Regions from separate parts of the Homo sapiens genome. Here region 1 is linked to region 2. A link means that fine-mapping ties the variant in region 2 to the expression of a gene that starts in the linked region. Tissue or cell type: cerebellar hemisphere. Region 2 holds a variant in brackets; the other region holds the start of a gene. All regions are shown on one strand. Distances are from middle to middle.

Evidence for each region. PIP is the estimated chance that this variant, and not a neighbour inherited with it, causes the effect.
Region 1: PHTF1 starts here. The variant in region 2 is fine-mapped to the expression of PHTF1 in cerebellar hemisphere (GTEx, PIP 0.95).

The regions. Positions count from the first base shown.
Region 1 is chr1:113,755,584-113,761,337 of GRCh38, reverse strand. It overlaps PHTF1 (putative homeodomain transcription factor 1), which reads left to right and starts at 1,852. Exons shown (of 19, transcript NM_001323043.2): 1 at 1,852-2,315; 2 at 2,605-2,679; 3 at 3,583-3,639. The coding sequence starts at 2,635. RefSeq lists enhancers at 1,400-1,979, 4,258-4,813 and silencers at 2,130-2,449, 3,083-3,212.
Region 2 is chr1:113,568,323-113,576,422 of GRCh38, reverse strand. All of the region lies in intron 2 of MAGI3 (membrane associated guanylate kinase, WW and PDZ domain containing 3), which reads right to left. Among named protein-coding and RNA genes, the nearest start is that of MAGI3, 180 kb to the right of the region's middle. The variant A/G (reference allele first, on the strand shown) is at 4,328.

The sequences.
Region 1 (5,754 bases), 190 kb before region 2:
CACATTTTTTGAGTAACTGCCATGGGCCAGGCAGTTTATATGAGGGTTTCTCATTTAATCCTCACATCCTTAAGAAGGTGACTATCTCCATAATACAGGTGAGAAAACAGGCTTGTTAGTTGAATAAATTGCTTAAGATCACAGATTATTGGTTGGGAGCAAGGATTCAGACCTTGTTCGCTGGTAGCCGCAGGAAGCACTGAATAGTTTCCAACAGGGCACCTGAAAAATGGTTTACTACTTACCACTATTCTCTAATACTTCTTACCTGATTCAGTTCCTCCAGACACTCCCTGAAAATCTGTGTGCCAAACAGTGAAGTAAAGTACTTTTGCTATTAATGTAATTGAGGTTAAATATTTACGTGTGCAAAATTCGACGTTTTTCACTTGTCATTTATCTCTTTTTTCAAGTTGGCCATTTGTCTTGAAGCTCAACAGAATTGTAATGTTTAGCACTAAGGAAAGGAAAAGCTGTCAAGGAGCAAAAGCAGAAGGAAACCACTGCCAATGTGTGCAATATAAAAATAAGGGTAAAATAATTTTTACTTTATTTGAGACAGGTCTCTGTTGCCTAGGCCGAAGTGCAGTGGTGCAATCATAGCTCACTACAGCCTCGAACTCGTGGACTCAGACGATCCTCCTGCCTCAGTCTTCGAAGTAGCTGGGACTACAGGTGCGCGCCACCACCCCCGGCTAATTTTTTTTTTTTAAGAGACGGGGTCTGGCCATGTTGCTAAGGCTGGTCTCAAACTCCTGTGCTCAAGCTACATTTCCGCCTCAGGCCTCCCAAAGCGCCCAGATTGCAGGCGTGAGCCACTGCGCCCAGGCTGGGTGAAGTAATTTGTAAAACTTAGTCCTGTGGGAGTTATTTTAGCTTAGTCGATTTTCCTCATCCGTGAAATGGGATAACTTCCACCTGGTGCCCACTCAATAGATAAGAAGAAATAATGTCTGCAAAACATTGAGTACAGCGCCTCTTAGGCTTTCTTAAGTGAAGCTATCATCTGTCATTAGCTTTCTCTGACCCAGATGCTACACGCTGTGGGCTAGCAAGAACACGGCTTCAAATAAGGTGGGGAGAATGGCTGTAAGGGGACAGTGTTCCATTAATGGCCAAAAAAAAAAAAAAAAAAAAAGCAGCCTAAAAATCCTTTTAACGTATCCTTAAATATTCACTTGAGGGTTCAACCTTTCTTTCCTTTCTCCTGACCTCTATCGGCCCTAATTAACCTGTTCCTGCCGCCACCTAACTTTACCCTAATTTGGAAAAAGCTGTGACTGCCCAATACTTGTTCCTCTTTTCCCCCTACACCTTTGAGCACTAGAAAGCTCCAGACCCAGAGCTGCTGAGGGGCGGGAGAGGAAGGGAGTCACTAAGCCGCAGCCTGGCCCTTCCTCCCAGGGCAGCGTAAATTCACGCAAACATTGATTCGTTCGCTCAACAAACATTGGGAACCTAAGTGCCAGGCTTGTGCCAGGCCCCAGTCTCTGACCTCATGGAGCCCACAGCCCACTGGGGAACAGAGATTAAGCCATGAAACACGAAAATGAGTGCCACAAAGACGTGAGCTACTAGAGTATCAGGACCGACCTCCTTTAGACCGCTGGATGGGAGAGTCGTTTGTGAGGAAGTGACTTTTAAGCTGAGGCCTGAAGGGTGATCTGAGGGAGCTGCTCTTGGCCATCGATATGCCGCGCGACTCCCCAGGCCCTCGGACCCGGAGCCTGGACCAAGGCTGGGCGGGAAGGCCCCGGGCCAGGGGCGGAGCCACCTCGGCGGCGAAAGCCGGAAAGCGGAAGCCGAAGGCTGCTGCCCGGTGGTCGGCTGAGCGGCTCTAGCCCAGATCTCAGACGGCTGAGTCACTGCATCCCGGCGCGGCCCGCAGAAGACGAGCGCCGCTGCCGCCGCCTCCTCCTCCCGGGCTCCCGGGCTCTCGGGGTCCGGGGCCTTTGCACCTGTCTTTTCCAGCTGGGCACAAAGCCTTTTGCTGTCGCCGTGGCGACTGGAGGCCTTCACTTTTAATCCCCCTCATTTTCCAGTTCATTCTCTGCTTATTTTCTGGTCAGTCCGTGACCCTGTAGGCGGCCTCTGACCGGCGATCGATTTGCCGCCCTCAGGGCGCTGGGCGGCCGGCTGCCTCCGAAGCTGGGGCGGCCTCCGCGGTCTCCATGGTAACGGCCTCTCCGGCGTCTCCGCCTGGAGGGGAAGATGCGGCCTGCCTGGCCCGCCGCCTCGCCCCCGGCCTCACGGTGGGACCCCGGGCACTGAGGACGGAGGTCCCGGGCGCCGGCCCGCGGGGCAACGGGCACTAGGTGAGAGCCGGACGCGGGCGAGCGAAGGAGGCGGGTGCCGGGCGACTCCAGCGGCGGCCCCTGCCCCTCCCCCGCACCCACGAACACGCTCGCCCGATATATTGCAGAGGCTTCTCCGGTCGCCGCTGCGCCAGTTTTTTTTTGTTTGTTTGTTGTGTTTTCCCTGGCAAACAGCTGGAGAAAGAGCAGCTCATGGAGAGGCTGAGAGAAGCGGTTTTCGCGTCCTACCCAAACTGGGAGAGTAACCTTCAGCAGCTGGACTCACCGATTGGTTTTCCTTCATTTTCAGTGAAATCCCATTCTCTGGCTGGAGACACAGATGGCCTCAAATGAGAGAGATGCTATATCGTGGTACCAAAAGAAGGTAATACATATATATATTTTTTTTATTTGTAAAGCATTCTTCCTGCAAAAAGCTCCCACAAATAATATAATGTTACTTTCCCCCGAGTTTAGTAGTGCCAGGTGTTCATGTATACTTCAACATAAATGAAAAAAAAAAAAAAAAGATGTACAAGGTCATTATGTCTTTTAAACCCGGTTCCAGGTCCCAGAATAAGGTTTACAAGCCACCTCCTTCAGGCTGCATACACAATGCCACCGCAATGCTTTGAAAGTTTGCTTCTGATCAAACTGCTTAAAAACAAAAAAGACATGAAACCTGTATGTGCACAGCTCAGATTGATACTATCAACAATCTTATTGAGCTGTTCCTTATCTTTTATTCCTCTCTAGTTTTTCTAGTGCTCTTTTCCTTAAGAAGTGGATTTTTTTTTTTTTTTTTTTTTTTTGAGACGGAGTTTCGCTCTTGTTGCCCAGGCTGGAGGGCGATGGCGCGACCTCGGCTCACTGCAAGCTCCGCCTCCCGGGCTCAGCCTCTGGAGTAGCTGGGATCACAGGCGCCCACCACCACGCCCGGCTAATTTTTTGTATTTTTAGTAGGGACGGGGTTTCACCATGTTGGTCAGGCTGGTCTCAAACTACAGGCGTGAGCCACCATGCCCGCCCAAGAAGTGGAAATATCTTTTAAGGTAATATTAATTTGAAATATTTTGGGCATTGCTTTTGAACTTACTTTTAGGTCCAGCTATTTTAGATTTTTGAAGGAAACAGTCCTTCGAAGTATTGATTTATTCTAACTTTTGAGAAGCATATTTTCCACATAGCATATTGATACTTAATAGGCTCATGACTTTTATGAGGCTTGACTTAATAATGTAAGGATTTCCTTTGCATCGTTTAACTAATAGACTACTCCCTCTTTCAGATTGGAGCCTACGATCAGCAGATATGGGAAAAGTCAATCGAACAGACTCAGATTAAGGTAAATTGATTTCTTTGATTCCGCCTATGTTTCACTGCATTAATATGAAGAGTGGAATTGTACTTACCTGGTAAACTCTGCATTTAACTACCAGTATGGCATTCTTTAATCTTTGAAGGTTATAAGAAAAGCAGTGCAAGCATAATGAGAAGTGACACTTGATTTTTGGCCTCACTATCAGGAAAACAGAAAGGAGTGAGTTGTTCTATGATGAATTAGAGAGCAAATGTCCCATATAAATAGGGCTGGGGTTACTTAGCTCTGGCTAGTTTTTACCACTTGGCAGTGCAGGTCCAAATATTGCCAGAGTTTCAGATTTTTCAAGAGAAGCTGGAAATACACATTTTTATATGAAATATATTGTGCATTTTGTGTCGGATTTTTAAGAGACTCTTCCTTCTCTTCCTCCTCCTCCTTTGCAAGCCAAATAAAATCCATTTGTGGCCTGAATCCAGCCTATGGTCCCCCATTTTATTCAATCACTGGCTTAGAGTATGTGTTTTTGTTTGTTTTTTTGTTTTGTTTTGTTTTTGAGACAGAGTCTCACTCTGTCGTCCAGGCTGGAGTGCAGTGGCGTGATCTTGGCCCACTGCAAGCTCCGCCTCCTGGGTTCACGCCATTTTCCTGCCTCAACCTCCAGAGTAGCTGGGACTACAGGCGCCCACCACCACGCCCGGCTAATTTTTTGTATTTTTAGTAGAGACGGGGTTTCACTGTGTTAGCCAGGATGGTCTCGATCTCCTGACCTTGTGATCTGCTCACCTCCGACTCCCAAAGTGCTGGGATTACAGGCGTGAGCCACCGCGCCCGGCCTAGAGTATGGTTTTAAGTTTTTCAGGTTCTTAAACTTTTTTCTACACAGCTCTTAGAACTGAGAGGATTCTTATTTTATACTAACCAAGTGACCAAAAACTGTTATATAATTCAGAATGCCAGTTTATTAACTTATAATAGGGGAGGAGAGGGTTAAATTATCTTCTGATATTCCAAAGTCAGAGTTGTGGGGTTAAGCCATTTGGGGATGCTGGTACAAATTCATCATGGAATGGTTGCTTGGTAACCAAATGTAATTGGATAGTCTTGAGATGTGGAAAAGCCTAAAGAACCATCCTTGGCCCTCAAAAGAATATAACTCTCTGCGACTTTAATACTTACTTAAATCTTATGGATTCAGGGCCTCACTTCCTTGCAAAGTGCTGATAAATGCCAGCTGATTCTTGTTTTTGCATTACCTTTCAAAAAGTATTGCAGCAGACCCTTCATTAATACTTAAAAAAACTGGGTGAATACAACTTAATATTATCTGTTCTGTTAAATAGGCCAATCAATAGAAAGCTACTTGAACAACAAGTAGCCGACTAACTTTTCACAATTTGGTATAGTCCTTGATTATTTATATTAGTGGGAGATGGGGTTAGGATGAATAAGTCTCCAGATTTTATTTTGTGATTCTCTAAAGCCTGTCCTGTTATTTTTTTGTGAGCTGCTAAACATCACTGATAGTAAGTATGGTGTAATGGAAACAGCATAGAAGTGGAGTTTGATCTTGTTTTGTGATCTCTAGCCTTGTTATCTAACCTTCTTCCCCTAGCCAATTTAAAGATTTCCTTCACCCTTTTTTTTTTTTTTTTTGAGACAGAGTCTCGCTCTGTCACCCTGGTTGGAGTGCAGTGGAGCGATCTCGGCTCACTGCCAGCTCCGCCTCCTGGGTTCACACCATTCTCCTGCCTCAGCCTCCCGAGTAGTTGGGACTACAGGGGCCCGCCACCATGCCCAGCTAATTTTTTGTACTTTTTTTTTTTAGTAGAGACGGGGTTTCACCATGTTAGCCAGGATGGTCTCGATCTCCTGACCTCGTGATCCACCTGCCTCAGCCTCCCAAAGTGCTGGGATTATAGGCATGAGGCATGAGCCACCGCGCCCTGCCTGATTTCCTTCACTCTTTTCCATGTCATTTAATACATACCTTCCTTTTAGTGCATGATATCAAAGTTATTTGTTAACCTATGTGTGTTCATAGGCCTAAGGGTAGGAAGTGTGTTTGTTTCCTACTCTTAGAACATCTTGATTCATACTAGGAACTCTGTCTGTTGCTATAGTTAATTGAACCCTATC
Region 2 (8,100 bases):
CCAGGGAACTCCCTCCCCTAACCAAGGGAAGCCATGAGGGACTGTGCTACCTGGCCCAAATACTATGCTTTTCCCACAGCTTTTGCAACCTGCAGACCAGGAAATTCCCTCGTGTGCCTACACCACCAGGGCCCTGGGTTTCAAGCACGAAACGAGGCGGCTGTTTGGGCAGACATTGAGCTAGCTGCAGGAGTTTTTTTTTGTACTCCAGTGAGACAGAACTGTTCACTTCCCTGCAAAGGGGGCTGAAGCCAGGGAGCCAAGTGGTCTTGGTCAGTGGGTCCCACTCCCACAGAGCCCAGCAAGCTAAGAACCACTGGCTTGAAATTCTCAGTGCCAGCACAGCAGTCTGAAGTCCACCTGGGATGATCGAGCTTGGTGGGGGGAGGGGCATCCACCATGGCAGAGACTTGAGTAGGTGGTTTTCCCCTCACAGTGTTAAGGAAGCCGCCAGGAAGTTCGGACTGTGTGGAACTCACTGCAGCGCAGAAAAACGGCTGTGGCCAGACTGCCTCTCTAGATTCCTCCTCACTGGGCAGGGCATCTCTGAAAGAAAGGCAGCAGCCCCAGTCAGGGGCTTATAGATAAAACTCTCATCTCCCTGGGACAGAGCACCTGGGGGAAGGGGCAGCTGTGGGTGCAGCTTCAGTAACTTAAATGTTCCTGCCTGCCGACTCTGAAGAGAGCAGCAGATCTCCCAGCACACTGCTCAAGCTCTGCTAAGGGACAGACTGCCTCCTCAAGTGGGTCCCTGACCCCCATGCCTTCTGACCGGGAGACACCTCCCAGTAGGAGTCAACAGACACCTCATACAGGAGAGCTCTGGCTGGCATCAGGTGGGTGCCCCTCTGGGAGGAAGTTTCCAGAGGAAGGAGCAGGCAGCAATCTTTGCTGTTCTGCAGCCTCTGCTGGTGATACCAGGCAAACAGGGTCTGGAGTGGACCTCTAGCAAACTCCAGCAGACCTGCAGAAGAGGGGCCTGACTATTAGAAGGGAAACTAACAAACAGAAAGCAATAACATGAACATTAACCAAAAGGACGCTCACCCAAAAACCCCATCCAAAGGCCATCAGCATCAAAGATCAAAGGTAGATAAATCCACAAAGATGAGGAAAAACCAGTACAAAAATGCTGAAAATTCCAAAAACCAGAATGCTTCTTCTCCTCCAAATAATCACAACTCCTCTCTGACAAGGGCACAAAACTGGACAGAGAATGAGTTTGATGAATTGACAGAAGTAGGCTTCAGGAGGTGGGTAATAACAAACTCCTCTGAGCTAAAGGACCATCTTCTAACCCAATGCAAGGAAGCTAAGAGCATTGATAAAAGGTTACAGGAACTGCTAACTAGAATAACCAGTTTAGAGAAAAACATAAATGACCTGATGGAGCTGAAAAACACAGCACGAGAACTTCATGAAGTATATACAAGTATCAATAAGCAAATCAATCAAGTGGAAGAACGGATATCAGAGACTGAAGATCAACTTAATGAAATAAAGCATAAAGACAAAATTAGAGAAAAAAGAATGAAAAGGAACAAACAAAGCTTCCAAGAAATATGAGACTATGTGAAAAGGCCAAACCTATGATTGACTGGTATACCTGAAAGTGACAGGGAGAATGGGACCAAGTTGGAAAACACACTTCAGGATATTATCCAGGAGAACCTCCGCAACCTAGCAAGAGAGGCCAACTTTCAAATTCAGGAAATATAGAGAACACTACTAAGATACTCCTTGGGAAAAGCAATCACAAGACACATGATCGTCAGATTCTCTAAGGTTGAAATGAAGGAAAAAATGTTAAGGGCAGCCAGAGAGAAAGGTCAGACTACCTACAAAGGAAGCCCATCAGACTCACAGCAGATCTCTGCAGAAACCCTTCAAGCCAGAAGAGAGTAGGCGACCAATATTCAACATTCTTAAAGAAAAGGATTTTCAACCCAGAATTTCAAATCTATCCAAACTAAGCTTCAGAAGTGAGGGAGAAATAAAATCCTTTACAGACAAGCAAATGCTGAGGGATTTTGTCACCAACAGGCCTGCCTTACTCCTGAAGGAAGCATTAAATATGGAAAGGAAAAATTGGTACCAGCCACTGCAAAGACATACCAAAATATAAAGACCAACAACCCTATGAAGAAACTGCATCGACTAATGTGCAAAATAACCAGCTAGCATCATGATGACAGGATATAATTAATACATAACAATATTAACCTTAAATGTAAATGGGCTGAATACCCCAATTAAAAGACACAGACTGGCAAATTGGATAAAGGAGTCAAGACCTTTTGGTGTGCTGTATTCAGGAGACCCATCTCATGTGCAAAGAGACACACACAGGCTCAAAATAAATGGATGGAGGAATATTTACCAAGCAAATGGAAAGAAAAAAAAAGGCAGGGGTTGCAATCTTAGTCTCTGATAAAACAGACTTTAAACCAACAAAGATCAAAAGAGACAAAGAAGGGCATTACATAATGGTAAAGGGATCCATGCAACAAGAGCTAACTATCCCAAATATGTATGCACCCAATACAGGAGCACCCAGATTCATAAAGCAAGTTCTTAGAGACCTACAAAGAGACTTAGATTCCCACACAATAATAGTGGGAGACTATAACACCCCACTGTCAATATTAGGCAAATCAACAAGACAGAAAATTAACAAGGATATTTAGGATTTGAACTCAGCTCTGGACCAAGCAGACCTAATAGACATCTACTGAACTATTCACCCCAAATCAACAGAATATACATTCTTCTCAGCACATCACACTTATTCTAAAATCAACCACATAATTGGAAATAAAACACTCCTCAGCAAATGCAAAAGAACGGAAATCATAACAAACGCTCTCTCGGACCACAGTGCAATCAAATTGGAACTCAGGATTAAGAAACTCACCCAAAACTGCACAACTACTTAGAAACTGAAAAACCTGCTCCTGAATGACTACTGGGTAAATAACGAAATTAAGGAAGAAATAAAGATGTTCTTTGAAACCAATGAGAACAAAGACAAAATGTACCAGAATCTCTGGGACACAGCTAAAGCAGTGTTTAGACGGAAGCTTATAGCACTGAATGCCCACATCGGAAAACTGGAAAGATCTAAAATAGACAACCTAATGTCACAATTAAAAGAACTAGAGAAGCAAGAGCAAACAAATTCAAAAGCTAGCCGAACAGGGCTGGGTGCAATGGCTCACGCCTGTAATCCCAGCACTTTGGGAGGCTGAGGCAGGCAGATCACGAGGTCAGGAGATCGAGACCATCCTGGCTAAAACGGTGAAACCCTGTCTCTACTAAAAATACAAAAAATTAGCAGGGTGTAGTGGCGGGCACCTGTAGTCCCAGCTACTTGGGAGGCTGAGGCAGGAGAATGGTGTGAACCCAGGAGGCGGAGCTTGCAGTGAGCCGAGATTGTGCCACTGCACTCCAGCCTGGGTGACAGAGTGAGACTCTGTCTCAAAAAAAAAAAGCTAGCAGAACAGAAGAAATAACCAAGATCAAAGCAGAACTGAAGATGATAGAGACATGAAACACCCTCCAAAAAATCAATGAATCCAGGAGCTGGTTTTTTGAAAAGATTAACAAAACAGGCAACTAGCCAGAATAAAAAAGAAGAAAAGAGAGAAGAATCAAATAAATGCAATAAAAAATGATAAAGGGGATATCACCACTGATCCCACAGAAATACAAACTACCTTCAGAGAATACCATAAATGCCTCTATACAAATAAACTAGAAAATCTAGAAGAAATGGATAAATTCCTGGACACATACATCCTCCCAAGACTAAACCAGGAAGAAGTCGAACTCCTGAATAGACCAGTAACAAGTTCTGAAATTGAGGCAGTAATTAATAGCCTACCAACCAAAAAAAGCACAGGATCAGAGGGATTCACAGCCAAATTCTACCAGAGGTACAAAGAGGAGCTGGTACCATTCCTTTTGAAACTCTTCCAAACAATAGAAAAAGAGGGACTCCTCCCTAACTCATTTTATGAGTCCAGCATCATCCTGATACCAAAACCTGGCAGAACACAACAAAAAAAGAAAGTTTCAGGTCAATATCCCTAATGAACATCGATGCGAAAAACCTCAATAAAATACTGGCAAACTGAATCCAGCAGCACATAGAAAAGCTCATCCACCACGATCCAGTTGGCTTCATGCCTGGGATGCAACGCTGGTTCAACATATGCAAATCAATAAACATAATCCATCACATAAACAGAACAAATGACAAAAACCACATGATTATCTCAATAGATGCAGAAAAGGCCTTCAATAATATTCAATACACCTTCATGCT[A/G]AAAACTCTCAATAAACTGGGCATTGATGGAACATATCTCAAAATAATAAGAGCTATTTATGACAAACCCACAGCCAATATCATACTGAATGGACAAAAGCTGGAAGCATTCTCTTTGAAAACTGGCACAAGAAAAGGATCCCCTCTCTCACCACTCCTATTCAACGTAGTATTGGAAGTTCTGGCCAGGGCAATTAGGCAAGAGAAAGAAATAAAGGGTATTCAAATAGGAAGAGAGGAAGTCAATTTTTCTCTGTTTGCAGATGACATGGTTGTATATTTAGAAAACCCCATCTTCTCAGCCCAAAAACTCCTTAAGCTGATAAGCAACTTCAGGAAAGTCTCAGGATACAAAAATCAATGTGCAAAAATCACAAGCATTCCTATACACCAATGATAGGCAAACAGAGAGCCAAATCATGAGTGAACTCCCATGCACAATTGCTACAAAGAGAATAAAATACCTAGGAATCCAACTTACAAGGGACATGAAGGACCTCTTCAAGGAGAACTACAAACCACTGCTCAAGGAAATACGAGAGGACACAAACAAATGGAAAAACATTCCATGCTCATGAATAGGAAAAACCGATATTGTGAAAATGGCCACACTGCCCAAAGTAATTTATAGATTCAATGCTATCCCCATCAAGCTACCATTAACTTTCTTCACATAACTAGAAAAAACTACTTTAAATTTCATATGGAAACAAAAAGACCTCATATAGCCAAGACAATCCTAAGCAAAAGGAACAAAGCTGGAGGCGTCACACCACCTGTCTTCAAACTATACTACAAGGGTAAAGTAACCAAAACAATATGGTATTGGTACCAAAACCGATACATAGAACAATGGAATGGAACAGAGGCCTCAGACATGACACCACATATCTATAACCATCTAATCTTCAACAAACCTGACAAAAACAAGAAATGGGGAAAGGATTCCCTATTTAATAAATGGTGTTGTGAAAACTGGCTAGCCATATGCAGAAAACTGAAACTGGACTCCTTCCTTACACCTTACACAAAAATTAATTCAAGATGGATTAAAGACTTAAACGTAAGACCTAAAACCATAAAAACCCTAGAAGAAAACCTAGGCAATACCATTCAGGACGTAGGCATGGGCAAAGACTTCATGACTAAAACACCAAAAACAATAGCAACAAAAGCCAAAATTGACAAATGGTATCTAATTAAACTAAAGAGCTTCTGCACAGCAAAAGAAACTATCATCAGAGTGAACAGGCAACCTATAGAATGGGAGAAAATTTTTGCATTCTATCCATCTGACAAAGGTATGATATCCAGAATCTACAAGGAACTTAAACAAATTTACATGAAAAAAACAAACTACCCCATCAAAAATTGGGCGAAGGATATGAACAGACACTTCTCAAAAGAAGACATTTATGTGGCCAACAAACATATGAAAAAAAGCTCATCATCACTGGTCATTACAGAGATGCAAATCAAAACCACAACAAGACACCATCTCACATCAGTTAGAATGGCGATTATTAAAAAGTCAGGAAATGACAGATGCTGGAGAGGATGTGGAGAAATAGGAACGTTTTTACACTGTTAGTGGGAGTGTAAATTAGTTCAACCATTGTGGAAGACACTGTGGCGATTCCTCAAGGATCTAGAACTAGAAATACCATTTGACCCAGCAATTCCATTACTGGGTATATACTCAAAAGATTATAAATCCTTCTACTATAAAGACACATGCACATGTATGTTTATTGCAGCACTATTCACAATAGCAAAGACTTGGAACCAACCCAAGTGCCCATCAATGATAGAATGGATAAAGAAAATGTGGCACAGGGACACCATGGAATACTATCCAGCCATAAAAAGGGATGAGTTCATGTCCTTTGCAAGGACATGGGTGAAGCTAGAAACCATCATTCTCAGCAAACTAACACAGGAACAGAAAACCAAACACCACATGTTCTCACTCATAAGTGGGAGTTGAACAATGAGAACACATGGACACAGGGAGGGCAACATCACACACTGGGGTCTGTCGGGGTGTGGGGGGCAAGGGGTGAAAGAGCACTAGGACAAATACCTAATGCATGTGAGGCTTAAAATCTAGATGATAGGTTGATGGGTGCAGCAAACCACCATGGCACATGCATACCTATGCAACAAACCTGCACATTCTGCACATGTATTCCAGAACTTAAAGTATAATAAAAAATAAAATAAAATTGATTTATAATTCTTTATATTCTGAATATTATAGTAAATCATCAAATCTAAGTAACCAACCCCTTCTAAACTGCATCATTATTTTATCTCTAAGAAAGAAAAAACCCTGGCAATTATAATTGAAAGATTTCATCTATTCTAAGATGCTTCCCAACTGTAGAGATGTTAAAATGTGAAATAACTGTCTTAGTATTGATGAAGTACTGTGATCCATTGTCAGACATATGTATTGCAAATGGGGGATTTCTGTGAAATATGTTTTCTTGAAATAGTACTTTCTGAAAAATCATGCACCCATAATAAGAGAGATTATGAAGAAAATAGAGTCATGGTTGACTTCTCAAAACCTTTGCAACTTTGTAACTAGAACACTAACAAAATAAATAATGGTCCTAATTTAAAATATTAATACAGTTTAAAAGACATGTTAAATTCCCAATTAAAAATAACAGAGTAAATAAAATACTGGTCTTTTAAGAAAATGAAAGGAATGAAAAGAAAAGGTGGCTTGACAGAAACGGGTATAAGAAAGTGTTAGGCTACTAAATAATGAAGATAGGGCAAATAGTGCAATAAAGATTTTTAAAACAGAACACATGGTCAAACAGAAAAGAGGATAAATTGAAGTGTATAGGTATCATATACACTGCCATATTCTTCCTCAGCTGCAATATTCAGTTGTGTTCTTTTATTTTATTTACTTGTAGCTATTTGATGATAAAAAACATTAGCTTGCTGAGGAAAATGGCATAGAAACTAGTATAACCTGAGTTAAATTCATGTCATTTTCTACATATGTGCCAATCACATGTAAACTTTTTTGTACTGCAGAAATAAATGTAGAGGAACAGAGAGTATCTTGTCACATTCTGATTTTTTCACCTTTTTAAGAAATTGTATTTTGATGACAGAAGCTCTTAATTTTAATGTAGTCAAATGTATAAATCTTTTCCTTTACAGCTAATGGTTTTTGTGTCTAGTTGAAAAAAATCCTTTCCTAAAGCTATGGAGATATTCTATATTCTTTTTAAAAAGCACTACAGGTTTGCCTTTCACACCTAGGACTTTAACACAAAAAACAGATGGTGGGGATGGGGGAGCTGGTGAGAAGTACCAGTCTAATTTCCTTTTTTTCCAAATGACTACTCAAAATAATTTATTAAAAGTCATTAATTTCCCTTCTGATCAGCCACAGCACTTCTTTCATGGAAATGTCTATATAAGCTTGGGTGTTTACTACTAGGCTTTCTATCTACTGACCATTCTGGTATCATTATCAGTGTTATAATTATTCTATTTTCCTAATAAATCTTGATATATAGTATAGCAAGTCCACCTATCTTGCTTTTTGTATTCAAAGCCTGTCCATATACATTCTAGAATCAGATAAACAGGCTAAAAAGGCTGAAATTTTTATGGAATTACATTGAATCTACAAGTCAATTTGAGCAGAACTGGTATCTTTGCCATACTGCCTTTAATTCATGAATAAGAAATTTCTGTCAGCATATTTAGATCTTCTTTAGCATCCCTCAATTTCACACTAT